Homo sapiens: one gene and its partners. The protein of the gene in region 1 purifies or fractionates together with the protein of each later gene. This does not show direct contact. Each region holds a gene or a part of one and is shown in the gene's direction. Other genes may lie near its edges. The genes, in order: COX15, LAMTOR3, VDAC3, MYO6, TOP2B, MRPL14 and KIF1A.

Region 1 (4,097 bases):
AAAAATAAATTAGGGTCAGGAGACAGAAAGTGGGCTAGGATCATCAAGCGAAATCTCTTTGGTAAGGTGACATCTGAGTGGAAGCTGAGGAAATAAGGGAGTCAGTCATGCAGACATCTGTGGGAGAGCATTTCTAAAATAAATCAGTAGCACTCAGTGGCGGGGTGAGGAGGGCATCAAAATCACTAAGGGAATTTTTCTAAGCTAATAAGCCTCTCCCCCTCCCCCCACACCACAGCCTCTACTCCACTTCTCTAGAGGAAGCAGAATCTTGGGGTGGGAGCAGGTAAGGATGCAGAGATTTGAAGTTTCCTTGGTGATTGTGATGTATCTTCTCTGTTGGAGAACTCCTGTTGCAGATATGTCTATTATTCTCTGACTGTTCCCTTAGTTTAACTCTGGGATAACAGACTTTTTCTATATCAGAACTAGTATTTGGTCTCTTCTTCCTCTCATTTTAATAAATACCATTTACCTTGGAATACAGGGGCTTTTGTGGCAGGGCTAGATGCTGGGCTTGTTTATAACTCCTTTCCCAAAATGGGAGAATCCTGGATCCCGGAGGACCTCTTTACCTTCTCCCCCATCCTGAGGAATGTTTTTGAGAATCCCACCATGGTGCAGTTTGATCACCGGATTCTGGTAAGTGTAGTTGGTGGTTACCTGCCAGAGAGCACAGGAGCCTATCATAGGCTTTGGGGTGTCAGTGAAGCACTGATGGCAACACTGAGAGGGTAGAGCAGGAACTATATTTCCTGCTCTCTTTGGAAGAAATTTTAGGACCATTTCTCTAATCTAATGTCTTTGTCCTCATTATTCACCCCTGTCCCCCTACCCCAACCCCAGCCAAATTCTAGCTTTCAGGACGTTGCCAGCTTCTTAAAAGTTCAAATGTGCCTTTTACCACTTGGCAAGTGATAACCTCCCTCAATTCTGCACGTACCTAGAAAGTCATTTCAGCAGAAATGTGGTTGAGTAGAGAAGCGAATGCGGAGACCATAGCTGCTAAGCACGTAGCTCTCGGAGCTAAACCAGAAGCTCAAGGAGCCAGGAGCTTCACCAGTACTTTTCATTCTATTTAAGCGAATATGTTTTGAGGGTCTGCTATGGGCCATTCAAAGATTGGCTTGGAGGCCTGTGTGTGATGAATTGGAGCGGGGAAAGATGAGCAGTAAGGAGACTGTGAGAAGCATAGTGCTGCTGCGTAATGCCAGGGAGAGTGATGGAGATGGGGCCTACATGGTGGGAGTGGGACTTGAGAAGAATGATGCATTTGAGAGAGAATTTAAAGGAATAGAGAGGCTGGGCATGGTGGCTCACACCTATAATCCTAGCACTTTGGGAGGCTGAGGCGAGAGGATTGTTTGAGCAGGAGTTTGAGGCTGCAGTAAGCTGTGATCACGTTACTGCATTCTAGCCTGGGAGACAGAGTGAGAGCCTGTCTCTTAAAAAATTAAATTTAATTTAAAAATAAGAGCACTGGGCGCAATGGCTCATGCCTGTAATCCCAGCACTTTGGGAGGCTAAGGCAAGAGGATCGCTTGAGCCCAAGAGTTCAAGACCAGCCTGGGCAACACAGGGAGACCTCATCTCTACGATAAATAAATAAATAAAGGAAAAGAGTTAATAAGATTGGCTGTCAGGAATAAAGGTGAAGAAAGATCAAGTGAAATCCCAAAGTTTCTTCTACAGCATGCTTGAAACATGACCTACAGGGATGGGACCCTCAGAATGAGTGTGGAGCTAGAGGTGGGAGGATGTCATCAGATGGAGGTATGTTGAGTGTGAGATGAGAGCAGCACGTCCAGAGAGAGGGGGCCAGAGGGCTCAGCTGTCCAACGGGGGCTGGGCTGAGGCATGTTACCTGGTGTGGGCTGAGTCCCCACCTGCGCACAGTATTTTAGCATAAGTAAAGCCTGGTTGAAATTGTCATTGTGGACAGCACTGAAAAGGAAATGAAGTGAAATAAATGTAGAAATATGATAGAAAACATTCTCCCTGATACCGTGGAAGAGGAAGGAGACCATTATTGCCAGTCCTGGACCCTTGTTCTGAAGAGATAGGAATGAAAATGAGACTTTAGGTCTTTTTTAGCACCAGCTGGCAGCACCAGCACTTTCTCCACTCACAGCCCAGGAAAATAATAACCCTCATGTGCTGGGGTCAGCCCTGCTTTAAGAATATAGGATTAGAGATATGGTTAGGGATAAGGATGCAAAGAATTAAAAATGAGGGGGACACCCACATTGGAAGGTGGATGAGATCACTGGGAGTGAGGGTGTATAAAGTACATACAGAATCTTAGGTGGAGCCTGGGTGATACCGACGTTTAAGTGGCAAGCAGAAGAGGATGGTGGAAGAGACAGCCTGTGGAGGAGTGATCAGGCTGGGACTGCAGGGAGGTTCTCTGTGACTGGTACAGGAAAGTACTTCATGGTTGCTGAGTGGTTCTAGAGGAGATACATGTAAGGTGAGTTAGAAACCTGGCACTTCTATCTAATGTGATAGACTCTTTCTTCCCTGCAGGGAATCACTTCAGTCACTGCCATTACAGTGCTCTACTTCCTCTCTCGGAGAATTCCCCTTCCTAGAAGGACCAAGATGGCAGCAGTGACTCTGCTGGCTTTGGCGTATACACAGGTATAAACCACTTCTTTTTGTTCTGACAGTATCCCCAATACAAAGTTAAAAAAGGGGCCGGGCACAGTGGCTCATGGCTGTAATCCCAGCACTTTGGGAGGCCTAGGTGGGCAGATCACTTGAGCCAGGAATTCAAGACTAGCCTGGGCAACATGGCAAAACCCCATCTCTACAAAAAAAATACAAAAATTAGATGGGCATGTTGGTGTGTGCCTGTAGTCCAAACTACTTGGGAGGCTGAGATGGGAGGATCACCTGAGCCAGGGAGGTTGAGGCTGCAGTGAGTCAAGATCGCACCGCTGCACCCCAGCCTAGACAACAGAGTGAGACCCTGTCTGTTTAAAAAAAAAAAAAAAAAAAAGGAAAGGTGACAGACTAGGAGAAAATATTTTCCATATTTATAATAAATTAAAAGATTAATAACCGGAAAATAAGTAAAGGACATCAATACACAATTACCACAAAAACAATGATTAATGGCCAGTAAACATGAAAAGCTGTTCAGCTTCACTTATAATCAGAGAGGAGCAAATTTAAAAAATAAGTACCATTTTGTGCCTATCAAATTGGAAAAAAGTGAAAAAAAAGATAATCAGGTATTGCCATGGGCATAGGAAAATGGATACTTTCAAATATTCCTGGTGAGAGCATGAGTCAGTACAGTTTTTTCCAGAAGGCAATTTGGCAATATCTTTTTTTTTTTTTTTTAGAGATGGAGTCTCACTCTGTCACCCAGGCTGGCAATATCTTTTAAAAGTTAAATGGGTAATTCTTTGGCCCAGCAAATGAACTTATTAGTGTCAGTCCTAGAAACAGTCCAATGCAACAAAGACCTTTTGTATGAGAAAATTCATCATAGAATTGTGATAGTGAAAAATTGGAAACAACCTAAATAGTTAAAAAACTATGGGCCGGGCACAGTGGCTCACGCCTGTAATCCCAGCACTTTGGGAGGCCGAGGTGGGCGGATTACCTGAGGTCAGGAGTTCAAGACCAGCCTGGCCAACATGATGAAACTCTGTCTCTACTAAAAAATACAAAAATTAGCCAGGCGGGGTGGCACACGCCTGTAATCCCAGCTACTTGGGAGGCTGAGGCAGGAGAATTGCTTGAGCCCTGGAAGTGGAGGTTGCAGTGAGCCAAGATCATGCCATTGCACTCCAGCCTGGCAGACAGAGTGAAACTCTGTCTCAAAACAAAACAAAACAAAAAAAACTATGGTATATCCATACTGTGCGATACTGCACAGCAGTTTAATAAGATCTCAATACATAGTGTATATTGCTAAGTGAAAAAAAGCAAGTGACAGAACAATATGTTTTTTAAAAGCACAAAACTATATATTTATTTCTCTATAAACATACTAAAGTACAAGTATGCAGAAACTGGTAACAGTGACTACTCTGGGGAACTGGGATGGATTGAAGAATAAGGGGAATTTTAGGTTTATCAATTTT
Region 2 (4,097 bases), on another chromosome or scaffold:
ATATTTTTTGCCAGCCTCACGTCCTCTGGAAAATTTTCGTCACAACCGCTTTCCTCATTTATGTCAATAAGTTTGCCTTCACTGAGTTCTCTGTGTATCTAGAGCGATAGTGTCAGCATTCCCTTGGTCATCTGTTTCTTCTATAATTCTTTACTTTCTATTTGAAATTCAGCATTTCTATTTGAAATTTCAGCATTATTACTTTTCATTTCTTTGCTGTATTTCGTCTTTGTTGGCCAGTTTCCTCTTTTTATTATCTCTTTTTCTAAATGTCACATACTTTATCATTGGGAGACAAGGAGGTACAAAACTACATGCTTTGCTATCTCTGCATGAGCTGCATAACAGATGCACAGTGACCAACCATCAACATACTTTGAAAGAAATGATGTGGCTGGTTACTGATGACAGTGTGCATCTGTTAATTACATAATTATTTATGTAGTGATTTGTGGACTAAAGAGTTAGAAAAGTTTATACTTTACGTAGTTATTGAGGTATTATGCCATGCTAACTAAAATTTGACCTGTGCTCTTCTGCAGGGAGTGGTATTACTTAACCATAGTAACTAAAATGTGCATATTGGAACTATGCAAAATGAGGGCTTTCTGTGTTTTTCTGTAGTTACCTTAGCGTAATGAAAGGGCGCTCAAATTGGGACGGAGAGATACCCCACTACGCTGGTGATATGATGAAATAGTTAATAGTACATAGTTAATTCACTTAGAAGTCTTAGTGATTTACAGTCCTCTTTTGAGTGTTAGCATCTCTTATTGAAGAAACAGCAAAATTGCATTCAATGTTCTTAAGTTATAAACCGACCAGAAAGATACTCATTAGTCACCTGGAGATCTAATAAAGCAATAATTGATTCTAATTACATCATCTGTGATTATAAGCAATAAAAATGTTTCAGACAATGGGGATCTCATTTTAACTATTAAGTGTGCTCTCAAAATCATAATAGCGTGTGACACTGGATATGATGAAGCTGTCTGTGTAAAGGAATTAGAGAATAATACCAAAAGTATTTATTATATTACTGAGTAGTTCTAATGTTGATCAAAAATAGTTGGAAAGTAAATGCTTGCTTCTTCTTTGAATTTAGATGTCTCTTATCTTTTAACAAAAGGGGAAATATCAGGTTGTTGTGCTTATCCAAGAAATAAATTCAGTTAAAGGATATTTGTTAAAAGCTTTATGAAAATCTTTCATAATGGCAGGAAAGGTATTAGTACTGTCAGTTTTTTTTTTAATAATGAAAAAAAGCCAGTTCAACTCATTATATCATTTATTGAAAATAGGCTTATTGCATCCCAGAACAGTAATAATGAAGAAATAATAATGTTTTGAACATTTATGAAGAATAGTAGAATATACGCTTTGATTTGTTGCTAGATGTATGGGTTTGGATGCAGGCATCCTGCTTCAGAGCCATGGATTCATGCTTTTAACTGTTGTACCTCAGTGCCTCTCAGTAACAAAGTCAGCCAGCTACGGATACTAATGGAATGTGTGTTTTTGTGCGTTTTTTGAATTCTCTGCAAAATATCGTTCTTGTATTTGCAATTTAAAATCTGGTTGTGACCCAAAGCAGTCTCAGGCTTTAATAATCCCACTTTGTATGTTTTAAAACAACCAAATATTTCATAATTATGTGTATAAAACTAAATCCGATGTCTTTGATTAGTAATGCAACATTTGTTTTTAGAAAAAAATGGTTGTTTTAGTAAGCTTAAGGTTTAGATTTCTTCAGAATATTTCACAAAATTTAATTCATTTCTTCTAAAAGTGTAGTATCTCTTAATGAGCCAGTTATTTTTAATTATTAGTAAATTCTATTTATATTACTCTTTGCGCATTGTATGTAGAATTGAAAACAGCTTTTATATTTGTGACCTGATTTCTAAAATTATATACTTAAGAGTGTAAGTAATTTTTCTACTTTCTTGATTCATTTCTCTGTGAAGTCCATCAAAAAGAAAGTCCTTTTATTTTCTTTGGAGCATTAGTTGTATTTAAAGTAATTTCCATGGAAATTTAAAAAAAGAAGCTACCTGTGGTGGCACTAATTTTTCTAAACATTTTTGTGGTCCTCTTTTTACCTGCTTTTTAATTTATTTTGGGGGTAAGTAGTACATTCACAGAGTTCAGATTCAAGACTTAACTGAAGAACATAGAGTGAGAAGCTGCCCATCCTTCCTCTCCAGCCACATGCACAGTTTCCCCTCAAAGAGGCACCCACCATTACCTACAGAGATATTTTATGTACCTATGAGCAGACATGTATATACACGTATTTATACACACAACATACACATATGCCTGCATATTTTGGTACATAATTTATTGCTTCTTCTATACACTGTTCTAAACTGTGTATTTTTTCACTTAAGAATGTAACTTTGAGAGTAATCTTTCCTGGTACATAGAGAACTTCCTCTTTCTCATGGCTGCAGAGTATTCCAGAGTATTCCTTTGTAGGTGTATATCATAACTTACCTTGTCCTTCTTGATGGACAGTTGGATTTGTAATGCTTTACTGTTTCAAATGATGTTGCTTTTGGTAACTGCACAAAATAATTGGCTTATGTACAAATATCTGTAGTATATGTTTTATATAACCTAGTTTTTAACTTAGAAGAATATATTTATTTTATGTATTAATCTTTTTGTTGTTGTTGTTGAGACAGACTCTCGTTCTGTCACCCAGGCTGGGAGTGCAGTGGCGCAATCTTGGCTCACTGCAACCCAGGTTCAATCGATTCTTATGCCTCAGTCTCCCAAGTAGCTGGGATTACAGACAAGCACCACCACACCCAGCTAATTTTTGTGTTTTTGGCTGAGACGGGGTTTCATCATGTTGGCCAGGCTGGTCTCAAACTCCTGACCTCAGGTGATCTGCCCACCTTGGCCTCCCAAATTGCTGGGATTACAGGCGTCAGCCACTGTGCCCGGCCTATGTTATGTATTAATCTTAGAGATATATTTTAATCTATAAATAAGTTTAGGATTGAATGATTAGGAAATCATGCCAATAATAGGATAAAAATAGTATAAAAGTCATTTATAAAGTTATTTTATTCTTATTTTTAATGTAAGGAAGACAAATGATTTTGTTTGTAACATTTTCCATTCATATTTAATAACACTTTTCTGACTTAAAAGTTTTTGACAATGGGATTTTAAAAAATTTAATGTCAGTATTTAAACATTAGGTTAATATAAGTATTTCTTATTCCTTAGTTAATACATTAAAGTTAACACAAAGAATAGATCATTCCGGGTTGCTGTAGGGACATTGAACATATCTCTGAGTTGTAGTTTATAGATACCATAAGATAGTTACAGGACTATAAGATTTATGTTAACAATGAAAGGGTTTTGCATAAATGTTGAAAGTCGAGGAGTGTCACCTTATATTTTTTAACACAGTATATTTGTGCTCTACCATATGTTTCTTAATTGCTAATTTCCCAGGGATTCTCACTGATAACTTAGTACTTTAGTGATAAATTATGTCATTGTCAGTGTGCACAATTGACACCACTGGTATTAGTTAATAAGTGATATTTTTGAATTATGTGCCAGCCTACACTTTACATGCCTTGTATTATTAAATTTCACAGTATCTAAGTAAGTACAGTTATTCCCATTTTCAAATTGTTAATCTGAGGCTTGTAAAGGTTTCATAACTAGCCCAAGATAGCATAAATAATAAGTGGCAGAGCCTGGACTGGAACCCAGATCTTTCTAACTTTAGAGCTATAGCTTGACCGTTCTGCTTACTACTTCTTACGTAAGCATGGCTGAAAGGATTACTGCATAGCCTGCATTCCTTTTGCCCTGTTTCTTCAGCCAGGAACAGTTTTTCCACGTCTTTTCACTTAGTGCCATAACGTCTCAGCTGATGTATTACTGCCTCCAGGAAAGCCTTCTCTGGCCCACTGTCTGTCTGCATCAGCCTCCTCTTTTCTAGGTTCTCATATCCCTATGAACTTTTTAACAACACTTGCCACCAGTTTTAGTTTTACGTTTGTTATTGTGAGATTATTTTATTGGTAACACATTCACTTTTTACATTGGAAGCCATGTGA
Region 3 (4,097 bases), on another chromosome or scaffold:
TATTTTTTAGGTTTTAAAATTTAACTTAAATTTATGTGCTGTACATATTTGATTTTTTCTTATTAACTAGTAATGTTAACTATATTTTAAACGATATATATAGCAGCACACTATTTTCAGCAATTTTGATTCTTGGAATAGTGCATATTCCTTTCATTTATTTTTTTCTTTAACTTACATTTTAAAAGTATATCTTTATTCATTTTGAGTGCTTGAAAATTATACTGCATTTATTTGGTTATAATTCAGTTTCTTGAGGAACTCTCACCCAATGAAAATACTATGCATTTTTCATATGGAAGGTACTATAGGCTATTTCATAATTTCTGAGTTGCAAAAACTAGTGAATGTCACATTTTGTACATTACTGTGTTTTTGTGTGTGTGTGTGTATAGGCTTTGGCATGGTCAAGATAGACCTGAAAACCAAGTCTTGTAGTGGAGTGGTGAGTATCTAATATATTTTTAATGAATGTAACATAATTAACTTAAAGGAATCTGTTTAAAATCATGACAGTCTAGTTACTTGAACCAGCACCATGCTGTCTTCCCCACAGCTTTGTCCTCTCAGATTTTAAACAGCATTCTTAGCCAATTAAAATAAACAACCAAGTTGAATTTTTGAAGAGACCTTTTGTGTTTCTCAGAGTATACTACAGCTTTCACTCAGAAGATGTAGAATATATATTTTTTGACCCATGTCATATGTTTATACTTTCATGAATATGTATATGGGCACCAAAAACCTCACTTCCATGATAATGGGTTCATGGAAATTTTATTACCCTTTTACAAAAACAAATTAACTTTACTCTGCCCCTTCATGATTAGTCGAAACAAAATATGTAAATAAAATGTATTTCTGCACGTATGCATGTACATTATTCTACAGTTTTTAACTGATGTTTATAAAGTTTTTTTTATTGGAAGTAAAGACTACAGTAAAGGCTATGTTGGCATATTTTCAAAGTATCATTAACAATAGCTTTTGGCTGGGTGCAGCGGCTCACACCTGTAATCCCAGCACTTTGGGAGGCCGAGGTGGGCGGGTCATGAGGTCAGGAGTTCGAGACCAGCCTGGTCAACATTCTGAAACCCCGTCTCTACTAAAAATATACCAAAAATTAGCTGGGTGTGGTGGCACGCACATAGTCCCAGCTACTCGGGAGGCTGAGGCGGGAGAATCTCTTGAACCTGGGAGGTGGAGGTTTCAGTGAGCCGAGACCAAGCCATTGCACTCCAGCCTGGGTGACAGAGTGAGACTTTGTCTTAAAAAAAAAAAAAAAAAGGCCAGGTGCGGTGGCTCACGCCTGTGATCCCAGCACTTTGGGAGGCCAAGGCGGGCGGATCACGAGGTCAGGAGATTGAGACCATCCTGGCTAATATGGTGAAACCCCGTCTCTACTAAAAATACAAAAAAATTAGCCAGACCTGATGACGGGTGCCTGTAGTCCTGGCTACTTGGGAGGCTGAGGCAGGAGAATGGCATGAACCCAGGAGGCAGAGGTTGCAGTGAGCAGAGATCGTGCCACTGTACTCCATCCAGCCTGGGCAACAGTGCAAGACTCCGTCTCAGAAAAAATTGCTTTTATTTAATAAATCTCAGCAAGTAGGTTAAGTTTTAATTTACCTTACTCTGATTTCTCCTCATTGGCTGCATCGTTTTTGGTATTTATCCATTCAAACCCATGAAAATTTTATTTCTGAATGTATAATTAGAAGGACAAAGACATGTGGAATTCTAATGATACTGTGTATAATCATGGTTTGTGACCATCATTCTTTCCCTGGGTTTCTCTGGAGTAAATAAATATATATGCACCTCCCTTACTAAGATGGGCACGCTGTGTATATAGTTCTGTTAAAATAGAAGAATCATTCTCATTTTGTGTAGGTTCCAGAATTTGCTCATTAGGTTTGTGTTGCAAAAATTATCAACTAAAATTTTATCTCCCTTTCATGCTGCTGTTGTGTGGTAATATTCATTCAGATGGTAAGAAAAAAAAGCTTATTCGTATGCTTGTTTTTATGGCTGCTTTTGGTTTCTGGTATTGATTTAGGATAAATTTCAATCATTGTTCCAAATTTCTTAGATTGTGTCTTGATATTTTTCTCATATGCTATCTACTTAACAGTAACATTTTTGTTTGTTTTGTTGCTTACTAAGCATTTAATGTAGAGCTATATGCATGTTATATGCATGTTATAAATGTGTTTTGCACTTGTTTGACCAAATTATGAAATTAGACACAAACTGAACTGTGAATCGTGAGCCTGGAACTCAACTTAGAACAATTCTAGCCTTTTTTTCTGAGATTTGTACCTGTGGCATTTTAGATTCGTGACAGACCTTCAAACTAAGAATTGATGCTGACAAGGGAGAAATGTAGACTACCCCTCTACCTTAATTTTGTGCATAAGGTTTTTCTAGCACCAAAATTAAGATTTGCATTTGTTATACTTGTCAAGTTTGTGAAAAGTAAATGTAAAAAATAAAACACTAGATAGTTGGATCTACTAAAAGAAAAATGATTGTCACGTTAAAATAATTATGTGAACAGTTAAACATGATTAACATGTTATCATTTTTTTTTTACTAAGGCCTTCCCCTAAATGTGCAGCATGATACTCTCTTTGAAACCATTCTGTGTGGTTTGATAAACAGAACATAACTTCCCAGTTGTCTCATCTGCCTGTAGAACTAGAGTTAGGGGACAGGGCATTTGTTAAGGAGAGGATTCATGTTGCAGGCAGTGAAAAAGACTGGTCAGGGTTGGCAGCATCTCATTACTGTTGGCAGGATTTCAGAAATGCTCCCTAAAACAGGACCAATCAGAATGTTTTTTCTTGACAGTTCATAGATTGTCAGTGACAGGTGCTGTCTGCTTTCCCCAGAAGGAGGTCCATTTCTAATTGCTTATTGTCATATGACTTAAAGGGCACTGAACTAGGGCAAAGGATGTATTTTATTTTATTTTATTTTTTTGAGACAGAGTCTCATTCATAGTAACTGTTTGATAGAAAGCACTCTTAAAGGTAGACAGGATAGAAAGGGGGAAAGAAGGATAAATTATAGCATTCTACTTTATTTTGAAAAATGGGTAGTACTTTCAAATATTGAAATTGTCTAAGCAGAAGTTTTGCAGTTTTGCACACAAAAGCATTAAAGTTTTCACAGCAGTGTGACTGTACTTAATGCCACTTCACTGTACACTTAAAACATTATTAAAATGGTAAAATGTATGTTACATGTATTTACCACAATAAAAAAAAACATTTTTAAAAGGAAGTAGTAAAGTGTTGACCCTATTAAAAAGGAGGAGGGCAGTATTTTGGGATTTTTAAGGACCTTGAAATTAACTGATAGTTTGAAACATATAGCAGAGAACTGATAATCTTTTTTTAGGTCATGAAAGTAAAATGTTTAAGATACAATATTTTTGGTCTTTTTAGTAAAGGCATTTGTTTTCAGTAAAGATACTTCTTTTTTAAAGGAGAGAATTTAGGATTACCATTTGGTAAGAGAGTATATGGAACAAGAGATATTAATAAGAGAAGTAGAGTAATGGAAAGATCTGAAACTGGTATTGAGCTGTCTCACTCCGTTGCCCAGGCTAGGGTGAAGTGGCATGATCTCGGCTCACTGCAACCTCTGCCTCCTGGGCTCAGGCTGGGACTACAGTCACGTGCCATCATGCCTGGCTAATTTTTTGTATTTTTTGTAGAGATGGGGTTTTGCCATGTTGCGCAGGCTGGTCTTGAGCTCCTGGACTCAAGGGATCCACCCGCCTTGGCCTCGTAACATGCTGGGATTACAGGCATGAGCCACTGCGCCTGGCAGAACTGGTTAAAATATTTAGGGACTGGAAAAGCAAGGGGAAAGGAGGAAAGAAGTTGCTCTAGAGTAGGGCTGTGGCAAGCAGTAAATGGTATTGTTTTTGATACATTGAACACTGCTTTCCAAAGTGAATATTTTCTATTTGATGAGCTAATTTTAAAGTAATTATTTTTTCTTGCTTACCAGGAATTTTCTACTTCTGGTCATGCTTACACTGATACAGGGAAAGCATCAGGCAACCTAGAAACCAAATATAAGGT
Region 4 (4,278 bases), on another chromosome or scaffold:
AAAATGTATTGATTTATCTAGGTGTGGTGACTCACACTTGTAATCCCAGCACTTTGGGAGGCCAAGGGAGGGGGGCGGGCAGGGATTGCTTGAGGCCAAGAGTTCAAGACCAGCCTGGGCAACATAGCAAGCCCCTGTGTTTACCAACAACAAAAAAATTAAGAAAATTAAAAAAATGTATTGACTTCTATTGGTTTGCCAAATGAAGTTTAGTATTAAATCCAAAATTGAGTCAGAGCAGTGTGAACTGAGACAGCCATCTTCATCTTCTCCCTCTTTTTTTCAGTTTGTTTTGAAATTTAGTTTTATATACTTAAGACTTACCTTCTGGCAATTTGGAATTAAATTTCTGAGATTGCTGTAAATTATTTCCTTTCTTTGTTTCTCTTCCTCTTTCTTACTTCCCTATTTTACTCTTAATATTTTATTGTTTTAGTTGAATTCTAAAACATCTTATCAGAACTTAGAGTTTTTATTTCTCCACCCACAGAACCATGGAGTCTTTAAGTATCAGAAATTTGTCTCCTCGTCAGAATCTTCTAGATTTCCAGAAGTTTCCAAGTCGCTACATATAAATGTTGCAGAAAAACGTGTAATTCTCATGTGCAAGTAGGCTTTTTTCAGCGGATACATTTAGCATTATAGTCAATTGTTATTTCGTTGCCTTAAAAGAAGCTGTTTTCATTGTAAAGGTGATGTGTTTTTACCATATAATTCAAATTTGCATAGGTACTTCATATTTTAAAAGGTGACTCACAGGTATGTCACTAATAAAAACAGTAACATTTAAACGACTGAGAAGGTAGGGGCTCTAAATAAAGTAAATGCGTCGGCGAGGGTAGGAGCGGGAAGAGGCAAAGGGGTGCGAAATTCCCATCCCAAGCCCCCTCCTCCAAAGACCGAATGGCAACTTAGTTGTGCGGGAAGGTTCCCCCCTATGCAGGGCAGCCCAGTCCAAGCCGGCCCGATCCGGGGCCGAGTGAGCAGTGGTTCTTGCCGCAACCGCCACGCAGCCTCGCTGCCGCCCAAGCGCGGACACCTGGTTCCTGGGTCCCCCGCGCGGAGCCCCGGACTCCTCGCCCCTTCTCCGAACAACTTTCTCCCTGCTTGAACTGATTCTCGCTGTTGGTAGACTGCACAGTCACAGTATCCAGCCGGACAGGACCTGCTTTGCCGGGACTGGAAACAACTACCGCGGCAAAAGAGGCCGTTTCGCCATGGGAAGAACAAGAACTCCCGGCTTGTCCAGGGGCAGCCCCTCTCTGCGCTGCAGGGCGCCTACCCTCGCCCCAGAGGCTCTGCGCCGCGGGCGGGGCGACCCCGGGGGTCGCGCGCCCTCTCCCGGAGCGCGCCCTCCCTCCCGGAGCGCGCGCCCGACGGCCTGCCGCGGCCCCGGCGCCCCCGCCCCTTCGGGCGCTCCGTAGCCGTGACGTGCACGCCGCAGTGCCGGGGACTCGGCGGGGCGCCGGCCGGCGGGCGGAGACCGACTCGGGATCTGTCCGAGCAGGAAGCCAGCCTCAGCCCGGCCGCTGTCGCCGCCCTGTCCTGGTGCCCGTCCGCGTCGTCGCCCTCTTCACTGGCCCTCATCACTTCTCACCGCGCCCTCCAGCTTCACCCGTACAGGTAGCCCCGCCGCCGCGCACCTGCCTTCGCTCCCGCACCGGTGAGTGTCCCAGAGACCCACTGCGGGGCGTCGGCGCCGGGGTCTCGCGTTCCCTGGCCCGGCCTTGCTCCCGGGCCTCCTCGAGCAGCTCCGGGGCCGACGCTTCTGTTCACTGCCCGAGGACGCGGGTGGGAGAAGCAGGTGATGGATGGGTGGGCCCTGGGCAGCAGTGGGGCCGGCGGTGGTTCTCGTTTCCACCGAAAGACAATCAGTCTCCTTTCATGGGTTCTCATCACCAAGGTCCCTTTGTGTTTCTTCCCTGGCTCCCAGGTAGAAGCAGAGCACTCAGGTGCCTAACTCGGACTTGGACACTCCGTGATAGTTTTATTTTCTCTTTTGTAAACACGCTTAAAATTCAGTGCAGGGGGAGCGCAGTTTGCTCTGAGATGTGAAGATCAAATGATACCATTAATAGTCTAATCATGTAGGAGACCAGATCGAGACTTTCTAAAGCCTTATTCTTAGTCTCCAGGTGGTCCAGTACCTTGAGTATGTTAATTTACGGATATGCTACTGAACAAGAACTTTTTTTGTTAATTTCCAAAAACTCCCTAAAACGATTAAAATGCTTAAACTCTGGGATTTTAATTTTAAGTAGGACACAATTTGATGGGGTTATTGCTAGAACATCCGTGTTTAAAAGTATTTCCATACAGTTTAAAAAATTCATTACCTTTTTTTTTTTTTTTTGAGACGGAGCCTTGGTCTGTCGCCCAGGCTGGAGTGCGGTGGTGCGATTTCCTCTCACTGCACCCTCCCCCTCGCGGGTTCAAGCAATTCTCTGCCACAGCCTCCCGAGTAGCTGGGATTACAAGCGCCCACCACCACGCCTGGCTAATTTTTTTGTATTTTTAGTAGAGACGGGGTTTCACCATCTTGGCCAGGCAGGTCTTGAAATCCTGACCTCTTGATCCATCCGCCTCGGTCTCCCAAAGTGCTGGGATTACAGGCGTGAGCCACTGCGCCTGGCCAAATATTCTTTACATCTTACCTGGCATAAAGTGATGTGGTGGAGGGATGCTTAAATCCTGATTTACAAGTATTAGTGAGAAATGAGGAGCACTGCCCTAACTTAATAGACTTAACTGTACGGGCTAAATAAGCCTCATTTTTTTTTTTTTTTTAATGCTCTGGTGGTATAGATGCAGTCTATCTAAATAAAGTCAGAACTTGAGAGTTTTAAAAATTAACTTTTTTTTTTTTGAGACAGAGCCTCGCTCTGTCAGCTCACTGCAACCTCCACCTCCCAGGTTCGAACGATTGACCTCCCTCAGCCGCCCGAGTGGCTGGGACTACAGTAAGGGCGCGCCACTGCCCAGCTAATTTTTGTATTTTTAGCAGAGACGGGGATTCGCCATGTTGGCCAGGCTGGTCTCGAACTCCTGACCTCAGGTGATCCACTCGCCTCGGCCTCCCAAAGTGCTAGGATTACAGGCTTGAGCCCCCGCGCCTGGCCTGAAAATTAACATTCTTAAGATTTAGCTGAAACTTATCTTCACACCATAAAACGTGAATCTTGAACTTGGACTGGTAGTGGTCATGGTACAAAGGTTGGCGGCAAAACAGCATTTCTGTACAAATTAACTGAACTTCCTAGATGTCTTGGGTTGTGGTTTTCAAACTGGAGAATGTTTAGTGAAAAAATTACCTTTGTGCCTTTTTTCCTTAATTGTAGAAACCGCCACAAATGTTACAAAGTGGGCTATAGCCAGAGCTTGAAACCATGCTGCCGTTCAAAATAGCTCACAGACTTTTATATATACAGCTCATTTTGAGTATTTTACGTTACGCAGGAATTGCATCCACTTTGGTAAACAGAAGTCATTTTAGTCTTATGTACATTTGCCCATTATTTTTGTATTTTTTGTGTGACATGCTGTTTATCATTCTCTCATCTTTGTAAGTTACATTTTTGTTTTCAGAAACCATTGTAAATGTAACAGAAGTATGAATGACATTTAAGGAAAGATCATGATTAAAAACTGTATAATATATAAAACTATATATGATATACATATATATTCTTGGTTAGTGCCTAGAAACATGAGCAAGAAAAATGTTATGAACAATTACAATATTTAATGTAAATTAATGCAATTAAATATTGCATTAAAAACAAAAGATCGTAAATCATAACCAGTAGGGATTATCTGAAATGGATTTTTCCCTGTTTATGTTTACGTGGTCAAGTTTTAAAATAACAGTGGCCAGGAAATCTGAGAGAGGCTGAAGGCTCTGTTCTCATCCTGTTGTGACTTTGCCTGGAGTCTGTGGTGTATCATGTAGCCCATTGTTTAGACAACTGGGCTGTATCTGGGTTCCAAAATGTAGCTTTCTTTAGAAAGTTTTAAAGACTTTGACCATGTGAGGCTTGAACAAATGCAAACATCCAAACATTGAAAAAAACCCATTTTAACTTTCTGTTGATAGTTGAGACTCCATTTTTGACATGTAAAATACCAGTTTTAAGAAGAGTTTACTAACCTCTGTGTAGTTTCATTTTTATATATTAAAATATCTAAAAATATTGGGAAGTGTTATAACTTAAATAAATCTCAGAGTTTATTTATTCTTTTTTTTTTTTTTCTCTGAGATGGAGTCTTGCCCTGTCATCC
Region 5 (4,097 bases), on another chromosome or scaffold:
GAATCTTTTGTTTTGTTTTGCAGAATGATCTTGGTGTATAGTCGTTCTGAAAAATAGGAAGTTTTACTGGAATGTTTTCCATTTTCTTCTGAAGACTGAGAAATGTTCTTGAAAAAGATCAAATCTTGGATTAGTATTAAATCTGTTTTTTTATTAGGCATTAGCAATATTGCAAAAGTGCCATAAGATAGGTTAATATTTAAAATATATAGTCTATATAGTTATTTTGGTATTTTTGTTATAATTTTAAATTTTCCCTAAATGCTTTGTTTAATTTGGCAGCTGACTTGAAATTCAGAAAAAGTCAATGATGTTATCATCATATTTATAAATGAAAAAGAATATAATTAAAACAACTTTTAGATATGTGTAGGAAATTTAATATGGTGATTATTTTACACTTTTATTGTCTTCATGATAATGAAAATGTAGCCTTGATTTTTTAGATTCCAATTTAATTGGATGCTGGCATTGTTTATTACTATCAGTAGTTTGGTAATTTGTTCACATAAATTAAGGCAGGGAAATAAATTACAAATAAACTTAACAAGTTTTCAATCGTTAGTCTCAACGCAAATTTATTCAAAATGCTTTTGGTAAATAATAATAATAATTATTATTATATATTTTTTGAGATGGAATCTCGCTCTGTTGTTGCCCAGGTTGGGGTGCAGTGGCGCTGTCTCGACTCACTGCAAGCTCTGCCTCCCGGGTTCTTGGCGATTCTCCTGCCTCAGCCTCCTGAGTAGCTGGGACTACAGGCGCCCGCCACCATGCCCAGCTAATTTTTTTTTTTTTTTTTTGAGACGGAGTCTCGCTCTGTCGCCCAGGCTGGAGTGCAGTGGCGGGATCTCGGCTCACTGCAAGCTCCGCCTCCCGGGTTCACGCCATTCTCCTGCCTCAGCCTCCCAAGTAGCTGGGACTACAGGCGCCCGCCACTACGCCCGGCTAATTTTTTGTATTTTTAGTAGAGACGGGGTTTCACCGTTTTAGCCGGGATGGTCTCGATCTCCTGACCTGATGATCCACCTGCCTCAGCCTTCCAAAGTGCTGGGATTACAGGCGTCAGCCACCGCGCCCAGCCGGTGAATTATTATTTTTAAAGGCATGTTGTTAATTTTTATTCAATGTGGAGTACTGTGAGCAATTGCTATAGAACATGATATCTTATTACTGTGAACATATAAGAATAAAAAGAGGTAAAATCAAAAGACTCTTCTGGGTCTAAAGTGAGTATAATTCTGTTAGCCTGCATGTGTCAGATATACATCACTCTCTTTTATGATCTGTAAAGTTGAGGTGCTTTTATAAACATGCAGATAGGAGTTTGCTAGTTTGTGGTTGTTCAAGGCAATTTGCTGTTCTCTTTTCTGAATATTGTCAGCAAGAGTGTTAAAATTGAAGAGCTACCCAGGGTGACATTTTTTTTAAGAGATAGAGATAGTGATGATAACAGCAAGGGAGAAGGTGCAGAATAGGTTTCTCATTTAGCTTCTCTCTTCTAAGGCCAAAGGTGGTTTGTATTAAATATGCATACCTGTTCTAGGGATGGGATCATCATATTAACTGGGTAAGTTGCCCTCTCTCCCCTTACCCCAGATTTTGATTTTTAGTGACCTGGACATTGCTCAGGGGACAACTTTCTGCTGACAAACAGGAGTTGAAAGAGACTATTATTTCAGGTTTCTGTTACAAAAACATATAAAAGTCTCAGGGGAGAACCTCCTGTGTTTGCCACTAGTGAGCCAGTGAGCAATGTAAATTACCATTTGTTGAGAATGGGAACGTAAAAGACAAATTGGATTCTAGTGTTAATTTCTACTTTCTACTCTGCCAAGGCTGCCAATCTTATTTGTGTATTTTGATTTTGTTTTTGCATAGCCTCTAGTGAGAAAGTTGGGGTTGCAGAAGTAATAAATAGGTGTAAACATTGCCTCTAGGAAAAGAAACCTTCAGTTTTATTCTAGCTTAATTATGTTTTCACATACTTGGGTTAATAAGCCTTTAACATATTTCTTTATGCATTCATTGTAGAAATTTAGAAAAGGTGTAGAAAAGATAAAAGTGGCATGTATTTCTACTCTATAGATAATTTTTATTGATATTCTGTTGGGCATATTTCACATTTTTTCCTATGCATGCATATATTATGCATAATTTTTTTCTGACAAAAATGGGCTCATGTTTTATATATACTCCTTTGTAATGCCCACTAAACAGTGCCATTTTGATAAACTACTAATTTAAACATACTTGATTATCTTTACTAATATAAATTTTCTATAAAAACTAGAGCAATAAAAGATTAACACCAATTATTTTTAGTATAGTAATTATAGACTTATTTACTCATTGAAACGTCCAAGTTTAAGGGTTTATATTAAGGATTTTTGTTTGTTTTTTATCTATTTATTTATTTATTTATTTTTGTGATGGAGGCTTGCTATCACCCAGGCTGGTCTCAAATTCCTGGGCTCAGGGGATTGATCCTCCGGTCTCAGACTCCAGAGTAGCTGGGACGACAGGCCTATGGCACCATGCCCTAGGTTTTATAAGTTGTTTGATATTATAATTGGCAGTTGATTTGAAATATCTGCAAATGACTTCCATTGTATTCTATAAATAATGTGTATCCCTTAAGGCTTTTCCTGACTTTAAATAGAATGGTATATCTTTTTCTTTCCTCAATAGTTGTCATATGATATTTAGAAAAAAGTGTATTGTCACACATTCATCACACTTATTTTACAGTATTTCTATGTTCTTCCTAGAGAAAATTACAAATAATATTAGACAAAGTCATCTACATTTCACATGTTCAATTTTTTTTGTTGTAAAAAAATACAACATTAAATTTACTGTCTTAGCCATTAAGTGTAGAGTTCGGTAGTGTTAAATATATTTACATTGTTAAGCAACAGATCTCTAGAAGTATTTCATTTTCCCAAACTGAAACTATATCTACTAAACACTAATTCCCTCTCCCCCCAGCCCTTGGTTAACCACCTTTCTACTTTCTGTTTCTATGATTTTGATTACTGTGGATACTTTATATGATTGTAATCATACAGTATTTGTCCTTTGTGACTGGCTTATTTTGTTTAGCATAATATCCTTGAGGTTCATCCATGTTATAGCACATGACAAGATTTCCATGTTTTTTGAGGCTGCATAATACTCCATTGTATCTATATACGCATTTTAAAAATCCATTCATACACCAGTGAACATTTGGGTTGCCTCGCCTTTTGGCTATTATGAATAATACCGTGATGAACATGGGTGTGCAAATATCTCTTTGAGATTTTGCTTTGAATTCTTTTGGATATATACCCAAAAGTGGGATTGCTGGATCATATAGTAATTCTATTTTTAATTTTTTGAGGAACCTCCACACTATTTCCATAATGGCTGTAGCATTTTTCTAGCATTTTATATTCTCACCAACAGTGTAGAAATGTTCCAGTTTCTCCACATCCTTACCAACAGTTATTTTCTGATGGCTGTCTTAATAGGTGTGAGGTGATATCTTATTGTGGTTTTGATTTTCATTTCTCTTATTAGTAATGTTGATTATCTTTTCATATGCTGTTGACCATTTGCATATCTTATTTGGAGAATTGTCTATTGAAATCCTTTATCCATTTGAATGGGGTTATTTTGTTATTGTCGAGTTATAGAAGCTCCTTATCTATTTTGGATATTAACCATTTGATGGTTTACAGATATTTTCTCCATTCCATACGCTGCCTTTTCACTCTGTCAGTTGTTTTCTTTGGTGCACAGAAATTCTTAAGTTTGGTGTCCTGTTTGTCTATTTTTGCTTTTGTTGCCTGTGATTTTGGTGCCATATCCATGAAATCATTGCCAAATCCAGTGTCTCAAAGGTTTTCCTTTATGTTTCCTTCTAGGAGTTTCAGAGTTTTAGGTATTACTTTTAGGTCTTTAATCTATGTTAATTTTTGTATGTGGCATGAGAGTCCAACTTCATTCTTTTGCTTGTTATCCAGTTTTCCCAGCACCATTTGTTGAAGAGACTGTCCTTTCCCCACTGTGTAGTCTTGGCATTCTTGTGAAAAATCATTTGGCCTTTTATG
Region 6 (4,097 bases), on another chromosome or scaffold:
TCTGAAGTGATTCAGGGTCTGTGTCCATAGGGTGGATTTATGCTAGGAAATAATATCAGGGTCCATCAGAGTTGCTTTGAAGTAAATTGCTGCCTCCATTGCTCTTCCCTGATCTGAAACAGTTATTTTAGTGGTGGGATCAGGCATTTTCCATAGTAGGCAGTGTAGGCACCAGGCCCAGGAGGTGAGTCCAGGGGGCCTGGAAACAAAGCACGGGCTAATCCTCCATGATTAGCACCATCATTCTCTTACAGCATGTTTGCCTGACATGTCCTGATTCCAAAAATACAGATAAGAGCTCTGCCGTTTCTGGATTTACCTCCGTCAGAGCCATGGGGGACCTGTCTTTCTCCTGGCTACCTCATTTATTTTATTCAACAAGTATTTATTGCACTCCTACTGTTATCAGGACTGGCTGGGGTCTTTTGCTAGGGTGGAAGAGGAGGGTATAACAGTTTGTTTTTTTGGAGGGATAAGGGACATATATACAATAAGTGAATATTTGATTCTTTTGTGCTTTCAAGTTCATAGGAATGCTAACTGCTGGCCATTTGATGTCTGAGTCCTTTGGGTTTAGGTCTAGACGTCAATATCAGATCCACTAAAAAGCTAGTGAAAAGTCACTGAATTGGGAAGTGCTTCCTAGAGACATGAATATATCACTCTTGGGTTTGAGGGCAGTACAGGTAATCCTTACCATCGAAGTCTGTGTGGCTCCTGAATTCCTGTAGCACGTTCAGTTGCCATGTTGTCAGAATATCTGGTTTCTGAATTTTGGATAGTGAGTGGGAAGAAATAGAATGTTAAAGGACATCAGACTTATCTCAAAGTATACAAATTTACTCATTGTGGGTGTTTGGATAGTGAATATTGGTTCAGTGAGTGTTGCACTGGCACAAGGATGTCCCAGTGTTCAGGAGGGGTAGCAATTGATGCTGCCGTTTGACACAAGACTTTGTGGAGGAGATGCTTGTGGAGCTGGGTCACATTTGTCTGGGCAGAGATGAGTGTTGGTTGTGGAGATGGCTTGTGAGCAAGGTGCAGAGAGGAGGCCTGAGTTTGTGTTTGTGCACTGACAGCCTTACAGAGTGTAGGGAGGTGCTTTGTGATGATACCTGAGTCAAGAAAGTTCTGGGAAGCCCTTAAGTGCTTCTGCAGTTCTTGGACTAATGTCAGTGTTCTTGAGGAAGCAGTGCGGTGTTGAGAGGCAGGGTGTTGCACTTCTCGGGAGAGGGAATGTGGGTGGTGCTGGGTTAATCTTGAGGGTTCTGTGGCGTTGTTCAGGACGCTCTTCTCTCTCAAGGAGCCAAGGACCTGCCAGCATCAGATGGGAACAGCTTGGCAGGGATTTGAGTTAACTGCAGCCTGGACCAGAAGGACTCTGCTTTTCAGAAGTTTTGTTTTGTTGTTTTTTGCTAGTTTTTAGTTATTGCTCTGAGTATTGATCTCTTCTTGCCTCCTACACTACAAATTGTCTTCAAAACTTAAAGTGAATAATTTTCACCTGATATGTGTCTACATTTCAGTTGATTCAGCAAGCACTGAATTGGCTGTGAGTAAAATGTGCATGTGACGTCAGTATTCTTTTTTTTTTTTGAGATGGAGTCTCACTGTATTGCCCAGGCTGGAGTGCAGTGGCCCAACCTTGGCTCACTGCAACCTTTGCCTCATGGGTTCAAGTGATTCTCCTGTCTCAGCCTCCTGAGTACCTGGGACTACAGGCGGCCGCCACCATGCCCGGCTTATTTTTGTATTTTTAGTAGAGAAGGGTTTCACCATGTTGGCCAGGCTGGTCTCAAACTCCTGACCTTGGCCTCAAGTGATCCGCCTGCCTTGGCCTCCCAAAGTGCTGGGATTACAGGCATGAGCCACCGCGCCCAGCTGACGTCAGTATTCTTGATGGAACAAGAATGATTTAATAGTTGTAAAATATTAATATTTAAATTAAAGTTGCCATGTTTACTCTGTTGAGTAAGAGCATGGGTTTAGGAAGCCCACAACTGGGGTTCATATTTCAGCCTAGTCATTCCTAGCCATGTGACCTTGGGCAAGTTATTTAACCTCTCTGGGCTTTATTTCCTTGTGTATAACAATGAGGCTAATAATAATTGTACCCATTTCATAGGGTTTTTTGAGGTTTATTTTATTTATTTATTTTTGAGACGGAGTTTTGCCCTTGTTGCCCAGGCTGGAGTGCAATGATGCGATCTCGGCTCACCGCAACTTCCACCTCCTGGATTCAAGCGATTCTCCTGCCTCAGCTTCCTGAGTAGCTGGGATTACAGACATGTGCCACCACGCCTGGCTAATTTTGTATTTTTAGTAGAGACAGGGTTTCTCCATGTTAGTCAGACTGACCTCAAACTCCCGACCTCAGGTGATCTGCCCACCTCGGCCTCCCAAAGTGCTGGGATTACAGGCGTGAGCCACCGTGCCCGGCCATGAGGTTTAAATGAGATAGTAATGTAAGACACTTAGCCTGCTGTGTGACACATTGTAACCATTTGATAAGTGTTCATAAATAAAGAAACAGAAAGAGGCCAAATGACCCTTAAAGCTGCTTGACACCCAGGGCTCTCCTGTGAAATGAGCTTTGGTATAGCAGAGCAAGGCTGCAGAGTGCGGTTGGAACACTCTTGGACTGAACCTGGATCCAGTTCTGTTTCTGCCCTTGACTAATTGTGGGACTCTACACAAGTCACTTAATCTGCCTGTATATCAATTTTCTAATCTTTAAAATGATATATGACATCATGATGATGATAGCTAATAGGTAATGAGTGCCAGGCACTGTGCTAAGTGCTTTGCATGGCTTATCTAATTGAATCCTCATAACTACCTTGGGGGCAGATACTATTAGTATCCCTGTGTTACAGATGGTAAACCAAAGCTCAACAGTTTGGTTACTTGTCCAGGGTCATCTCACCAGTAAAAGTAAAGCTAGTCTCATTTGGTAGTCTGTGATTCTCTGTGTGTCAGATGTTAGTAGTTGCATACATTAGCTGCCTTCTTTTGCATTTGATTTTTCTGATCATAATTACATTTTGGCTGATGCTTCATGGGTTGTCTTAAGGAAAACATTTGGGAGTAAGTTTGGGATTTGAGGCTAAATTGTAGTTAATAAGCATTTAAAGGCCAGGTGTGGTGGGTGGCTCACACCCATAATCCCAGCACTTTGCGGGGCTGAGGCGGGAGGATTGCATGAACTCAGGAGTTCAAGGCCAGCCTGGGCAACATAGTGAGACCATCATCTCTACAAAAAAAAAAAAAAAAAAAAAAAAAACACAAAAAATTAGCCAGGCGTCCTGGTGCATGTCTGTGGTCCTGACTACTTGGGAGGCTGAGGTGGGAGGATCACCTGAGCTTGGGGAGTTCGGGACTGCAGTGAGCTGCAGTTGCACCACTACATTCCAGCATGGGTGACAGAGCAAGACTTGTCTCAAGGAAAGAAAAAAAAGTATGGAGTGTCTAGGTATTCCTGGGGAGGAGTGGATTCCCCTGCCCCACCCTAACATTCTTATTAAATAAAATCTTATCTGAGGTGGTTTGAACTTGTGCATAGCAAAGCTGTGTGTAAATACTACAGTGTAGAGGCTTTTCTCGGCAGACCTCTTGAATGGGCACCTCTGCTGCCAAACGTTTGGGTGGAAAAACAGGTGTGTTTTGCAGCTGGCTACAGGCCTTTCTGAAGCATGCTCTGAAGTGATGTTCAGGTGTTTCAGGGCACTGGCAGCCTCCATATTTGTTAGTGCTAGGGAGCAACAGGGTTGAGATTCTGAAAACTGGAGTCACAAGTCTTGGGTTGGTGTTTGCTCTTTTAGCTAACTCTTCAAGTTGGTTTCCCAAAGCCCACTTTCAGCTGTAGTATGGTGTAGGTCAGTTTTCCATGTTACAGTGTTTGGGAGACTGACCCAAATAAAGACTTTGGTCTTTGACTTGGCAAGAGCAGCCTTTGGCTTTGCTTTGCTGGCCTTGAGCTGTACAGGTGTTCTGGCCTTTACATTTGGGGGAAAGGTGATGTAGTGATAGACAACTTGGGTGGCTGCTTAGATAATTTACTTTCTTTTAGGGAGTTAAAGTGCTGGTTTCAGAAGGCA
Region 7 (4,701 bases), on another chromosome or scaffold:
GGAGGCTGAGGCTGCAGTGAGCCAAGATGGCACCACTGTACTCCAACCTGGGAGACAGAGCAAGACCCTGTCAAAACAAACAAACAAAACCATAAAAAGCCAGAATATAAAGAAAAAAAGATATGCTAGTCATTTAAATATTAACGTGAAATAGATTAATTCCTAGAAAAATGTCTATTGCCTCGAGAAATAGAGAACTTGCCAGATTAAAAAGCATGAGGAAAACGGAGGTGATAAAGACCCCAGCCCCAGAAGCCCAGATGGTTTTATTGTTTCTGCCAGGGTTAGGAAGAACAATTGATTTCTCTTTCATGCCGGCGGTTCCAGGAAATAGTGAAGGAGGAGGAGCTGTCTAGCTGGTTTCGGCGGGGCTGGGGCTGGGAGTGGGGGGCCCGTGTCTTGCAGAAGTGGATGTGAATCTCCCCCAGCCACCTGCAAGGCGCTCGCACGCAGCTGTCGGGACTGAGGTGAAGCCGGCTCTCCCAGGAGTGTGGATGAAATGGTTAACGGCGAGGCCGCTAGGGCAGCGCAGGCCCCTGCTGGGCGCCAGGGAGGCTTAGCCAGGCGACGCCAGGATGCCCATGGCAGGGGCTCGATGGCAGGGGCTGGGCTGGAGGGGACCCAGCCCCGGGGTTCAGGGTGGCCCGAAATCCGTGCACCCCCGCACCGCAGTGCGGGGAGGTTCCCATGGGCGAGCTGCCCAGAGGCTTTGTCGAAGTTGCCCAGCCCTGGGACGGTGGAGGGAGGACGGTGGCGCGCACAGAGATACCAGTCAGCCCCTGGAACTAGGAAGGCGGCTGGGGGCGGGTGACGCAGGCTGGGGTTTGCCGGGGTGGCCCCCGAGCGGCGTGTGACTTGGGGGTCCAAGGAAGTTAAACTGGACAGGCTGGGGTGAGGACAATGGGGGCCTGGAGAGGTGGGGCGAGAGGAGGGCGGGGGGTCCCCACGAGCCGCGGTAGAGGCGAGGCGGCGGGTCCGCGGGCGGGTTGCATCATCCGGCGGGGAGGGCCTGGGTCACTGCTGCTCTTCCCCCGGCGCCCCGGCCCCGACACAAGATGCGATTTCACCGCGCACCTGTTACACCCGGAGCCAGCATCCCTGGCGCAAGGAGCCCTCCCTCCCCAGCCCCGCCCGCCCCCCACGATGCGTCTGTCGCTGGCTCAGAGCGGGGGCAGGTGGACGTTTTACGATTTCACTCGAAAGGGGCCAGGGTGGGGGACGGCCCGGCGAGGGGTCCGCGGGCAAGTTCAGGTGCACGCGGGGCTTCGGGACGGGGCGCCGCCGGGTCCCTCCCCCGCGAGGTCTCAGGGGCACGCCGGGGGAGGGGACGCTGCGTCCGAGCCGGGTGTCGGTCCCCCACCCTCCGCGGGGCCCGCCGCGGTGTCAGCGGTGACGTCACAGCCCGGCCCCGGCCCCCTCCGTCCCCAGCCCCATCCCCGCGGCGGCCGCGTCGCCCGTCCCTCTCCCCGCGCGACAAACCAGCTGGCGACTGGAGCTCGGACGCCGCGCGCAGCCAACCAGCGCCTCGGGAGGGGCGCGGGGCGGTCCGGGCCGGGGGCGCGCAGCCCGTCACGCGGCGGCGCCGTCACAGCGCAGAGCAGCCGGCGAGCGGCAGCAGCTCCGGGCTCGAGAGCCCGCGCCCATGCCAGTGCCCATGCGGGGCCGCCGCCAGTGACGCCGGAGAGGTAAGGCCGCCGCCCGCCCGGCCTCCCGCGCCCGCGCCCCTCGCCCCGCACCTGCGCCCGGCAGCCCGCGCCCGCAGCCCGCACCTGCACCCACTGCGCCCAGGGCGGGGAGCTCCGGCCCGGCGCCCTTGTTGCCGCCCAAAGCGCAGGCACTGCGAGGCCCCTTCACTTCCAGACCTTCCTCCATCTCCGCAGAGAACAATGGGGGAAATTCAGGGGTGTCCGCCCTTCAGGTGCCGCTGGAAAAGGTCCCTTTGCCGCGATCTCGGCTGCAGCGGGACCCTCGGCTTAGGCGGGCGGGGGTCGCCCTCGGGAGGGCTCGCCCGGCCGGCGGGATCGGGATACCCCCGCCCTTCCCCGGCTATTCCGCTTCCCTGGAGAGGAGCCACCGGCGGGGCTGCGGGAGGGGCTGCGCCCAGACGGCGGGGGAGGGGAGGGATGGTGAGCGGGGCTGAGGACGCTGACGCCGCACCTGGGAGGGTGCGCGGCTGCAGCGCCTCGGCCCGAGGGGAGAGCGCGCAGGGCGGCCGGGCGCGGGCAGCTGCTCCGGTTCCCGGGGTGGGGGAGGGCGGATGCTGGAGCCGGGAGCAAAACAGGCGGGCGGGGCGGGGGCTGCGGCGTTGGGGCCTGGCCACCCGCTTCGTTGCACGGCCGGCCTGCCCATCACCCCCTCCCACGCCAGAGACCCCAGCTCCCTTCCAGAAAGACCCAGCACCTGGGAGGGGCCGCCGGCGAGCACTGCCTGCGTCTCAGCAGCCAGCGCCCCTGTAACAGGTGTGGCCCGGCGGCGAGGGAGGGGCTGCGGGGCCGCAGGGTCTAGGCTGGCGGCGCGCCCCCGGCGCCCGGGCTCGGATGACACGAAGGAACAGTGGCCGCGAAGACCTTCGCACTCCCGCTTTAAGCCGCTCCTCACGCTGACTTCCCCCAAACCAGCCGCGCTGCCCTCTCGCTGGGAAGGGCCGGGGCAGCATCCCCGCCGGGAGGGAGGGTCCGCAGGAGCGGGGCGCTGGGCGCCGGTAGGTGGGGTTGGGGGGGCCCTGCCGGCCGCAGGGGCGGGAGGGGGAGGGGAAGGAGGGAATGCCAAGTCATGGGGCCTGCTGGGCGCGAGCGCGACGTCGCCCGGCGCGGACCCGATGCGCGCCCACGTCCCCGGGAATAGGGACTTTCCCCCAGAGACTGGAGGACCCCTTCCCCAAGCGTCAGCCCTTTCCAAGGGGTGCCTGCATTGCTGGAATTAAAGGCCTGCCAGGGCAAGCGGATTGGATCTTGCGGCTGCGGAGAGGAGGCGGTGCGGAGAGGCCCCTGCCTCGCAGGGCTGGCACTGGCCTCACCCTGGGGACGCACAGCGCGACACCGTGCTCGGCTCTGCGGGACACCAGGTCGCACTCAGGCTGGCGGGGCCTTTGCCAGGGAAGCCATGCCAGCACCCTCGTGGTGTGAGAAGGCAGCAGAGGGTTTGAAGGGAAGCTCTGGGGTCCACGTGGGGGTTGGGGCTGCACCTGCGGCGGCCATTTTGCAGGTGTGGTTGGCCACCAGCCTTAGCCAGGCTGTGGAGTGGGGCAGTCAGGAGTGGGGCAGTCAGGAGTGGAGCAGATGTGGAGCTTGCGGTGCAGGGTGTGGGATGGGCCAGGGCCAGGGCTCAGGTCTGCCCTTGCACTGAACACACACCGTCTATTTAGAGGGGTTCCTTGTTTGGTTGATGGGGTGGTTGGAGTCAAGACCCAGGAACCCTCTGGACCGGAGGGATGAGGAGGGATGCGGTAAGGCCGCTGGCTGAGGGGCCCAGCGTGGGATCGGAGGAGGGCAGCCTTTACCCGGGGTGAAGTCTCGGGAGGGTGCTGGGTCCAAGGCAGGGCCCGGATGAACAGCTTCACTCCGGCTGCAGATGGATCTGAGGCCCTGCAGGTGTCCTCCCCGGGCAGGTCCGCAGGGTGGACAGAGGCTGGAATCAGTTGTCAAGGCAGGGGTCCCGGGCCGGGCCCAGGGAGGTCCCTGTGGTGAGGGCCTGCAAGATGTCTGCTGTGTGCCAGCCCTGCTCCCAGCCGGGTGCTGCCCCCCTGGGTGCCTCCTTTCCCCCTTCCCCACTGGAATGTCCCACAGACTGCCCCATCTGGGGCTCCAGCCGGCCAGCCACAAACAGGTGGAGCCTGGAGTTCTGCCCAAAGCCCAGGGATGATGCTTGGCTGGATCAGGATTAAAACTGGGGTCACTGCCCGGCCGCCCAGCCTGTGCCCCGCAGTCCTCACTGATGTCATGACTGCTGACCTTGGGCCCACCATGCCCTTTGGGAGTAGGGTAGGGCAGTCCTCCTGTGGGATTTGTGAAGGGTGGAGGGGGAGATGTGAGCTGGAGGAGGAGGCCCTGGAGGAGACTGAGGGCATCTCTTCAGGCCACTCAGCCGGGCCGGCCAAAGCAGGTGAACTGGGTGTGGTGGGGACGGGAAGGGAGACGTTCCCACAGAGCCCTGGTCCTACCAGATTGGGGTCTATGGAGGGGCTACCAGCATTAGGTCATTGGGATTTACTGAGCCCTGCACATGCCTAGCTGGCCAATCCCGTCAGGCCTGAGACCATCCGTGCACATCTATCAGTGAGCTGGGAGGGGCCTGAGCCGCTACCACGGGTGGAGAGTGGTGGGCCTGGGTCTCTGGGTGGCTGTGATTGGTAGGATGAGCACGTGGTTGTCTGCCTGCAGAGTCTGGGGACCTCTCTAGGTCATTGCCACATTCAGTGTTCTTAGGCCCAAAGGATGTGGCTCACCACCCACAATATGGGTGGCCAAAGGGACTCAAGGTGTCACCTCCCACTGCCCATCACCCACTCCATGCCCAGGAGCGTCTCTGAGAACCATGGGGGGCTGGGCCACACCCTGCCCCGAACCTGTCCATGGGTGGCCAGGGTACCCAGGGACACAGCCAGGCAGCGTTGGGCCTGCGTCCTTGCCGGCTTCTGCCCCTTAGGTGGTGGCCTCCGGCCATAGGCCCATCCCTGCTACAGGAGGGTTTGGGATCCCAGAG

The links.
Region 2: the proteins of COX15 (region 1) and LAMTOR3 fractionate together in Homo sapiens (co-fractionation; one large-scale study listed by BioGRID). This does not show direct contact.
Region 3: the proteins of COX15 (region 1) and VDAC3 purify together in Homo sapiens (affinity purification with mass spectrometry, with the first as the bait; one large-scale study listed by BioGRID). This does not show direct contact.
Region 4: the proteins of COX15 (region 1) and MYO6 purify together in Homo sapiens (affinity purification with mass spectrometry, with the first as the bait; one large-scale study listed by BioGRID). This does not show direct contact.
Region 5: the proteins of COX15 (region 1) and TOP2B purify together in Homo sapiens (affinity purification with mass spectrometry, with the first as the bait; one large-scale study listed by BioGRID). This does not show direct contact.
Region 6: the proteins of COX15 (region 1) and MRPL14 fractionate together in Homo sapiens (co-fractionation; one large-scale study listed by IntAct). This does not show direct contact.
Region 7: the proteins of COX15 (region 1) and KIF1A purify together in Homo sapiens (affinity purification with mass spectrometry, with the first as the bait; one large-scale study listed by BioGRID). This does not show direct contact.

The regions. Positions count from the first base shown.
Region 1 is NC_000010.11:99,714,891-99,718,987, reverse strand, and holds part of COX15 (heme A synthase COX15), read left to right. Parts: intron 1-487; coding exon 488-642; intron 643-2,508; coding exon of another isoform or gene 2,509-2,526; coding exon 2,527-2,640; intron 2,641-4,097. UniProt on the Homo sapiens protein: Catalyzes the second reaction in the biosynthesis of heme A, a prosthetic group of mitochondrial cytochrome c oxidase (CcO). Heme A is synthesized from heme B by two sequential enzymatic reactions catalyzed by heme O synthase (HOS) and heme A synthase (HAS).
Region 2 is NC_000004.12:99,887,786-99,891,882, reverse strand, and holds part of LAMTOR3 (ragulator complex protein LAMTOR3), read left to right. Parts: intron 1-4,097. UniProt on the Homo sapiens protein: As part of the Ragulator complex it is involved in amino acid sensing and activation of mTORC1, a signaling complex promoting cell growth in response to growth factors, energy levels, and amino acids.
Region 3 is NC_000008.11:42,394,689-42,398,785, forward strand, and holds part of VDAC3 (non-selective voltage-gated ion channel VDAC3), read left to right. Parts: intron 1-395; coding exon 396-445; intron 446-1,989; coding exon of another isoform or gene 1,990-1,992; intron 1,993-4,023; coding exon 4,024-4,097. UniProt on the Homo sapiens protein: Non-selective voltage-gated ion channel that mediates the transport of anions and cations through the mitochondrion outer membrane and plasma membrane.
Region 4 is NC_000006.12:75,747,761-75,752,038, forward strand, and holds the start of MYO6 (unconventional myosin-VI), read left to right. Parts: upstream 1-1,478; 5' UTR 1,479-1,663; intron 1,664-4,278. UniProt on the Homo sapiens protein: Myosins are actin-based motor molecules with ATPase activity. Unconventional myosins serve in intracellular movements. Myosin 6 is a reverse-direction motor protein that moves towards the minus-end of actin filaments.
Region 5 is NC_000003.12:25,654,767-25,658,863, reverse strand, and holds part of TOP2B (DNA topoisomerase 2-beta), read left to right. Parts: intron 1-4,097. UniProt on the Homo sapiens protein: Key decatenating enzyme that alters DNA topology by binding to two double-stranded DNA molecules, generating a double-stranded break in one of the strands, passing the intact strand through the broken strand, and religating the broken strand.
Region 6 is NC_000006.12:44,117,027-44,121,123, reverse strand, and holds part of MRPL14 (large ribosomal subunit protein uL14m isoform a precursor), read left to right. Parts: intron 1-4,097. UniProt on the Homo sapiens protein: Forms part of 2 intersubunit bridges in the assembled ribosome. Upon binding to MALSU1 intersubunit bridge formation is blocked, preventing ribosome formation and repressing translation.
Region 7 is NC_000002.12:240,817,106-240,821,806, reverse strand, and holds the start of KIF1A (kinesin-like protein KIF1A), read left to right. Parts: upstream 1-1,587; 5' UTR 1,588-1,685; intron 1,686-2,529; exon of another isoform or gene 2,530-2,701; intron 2,702-4,701.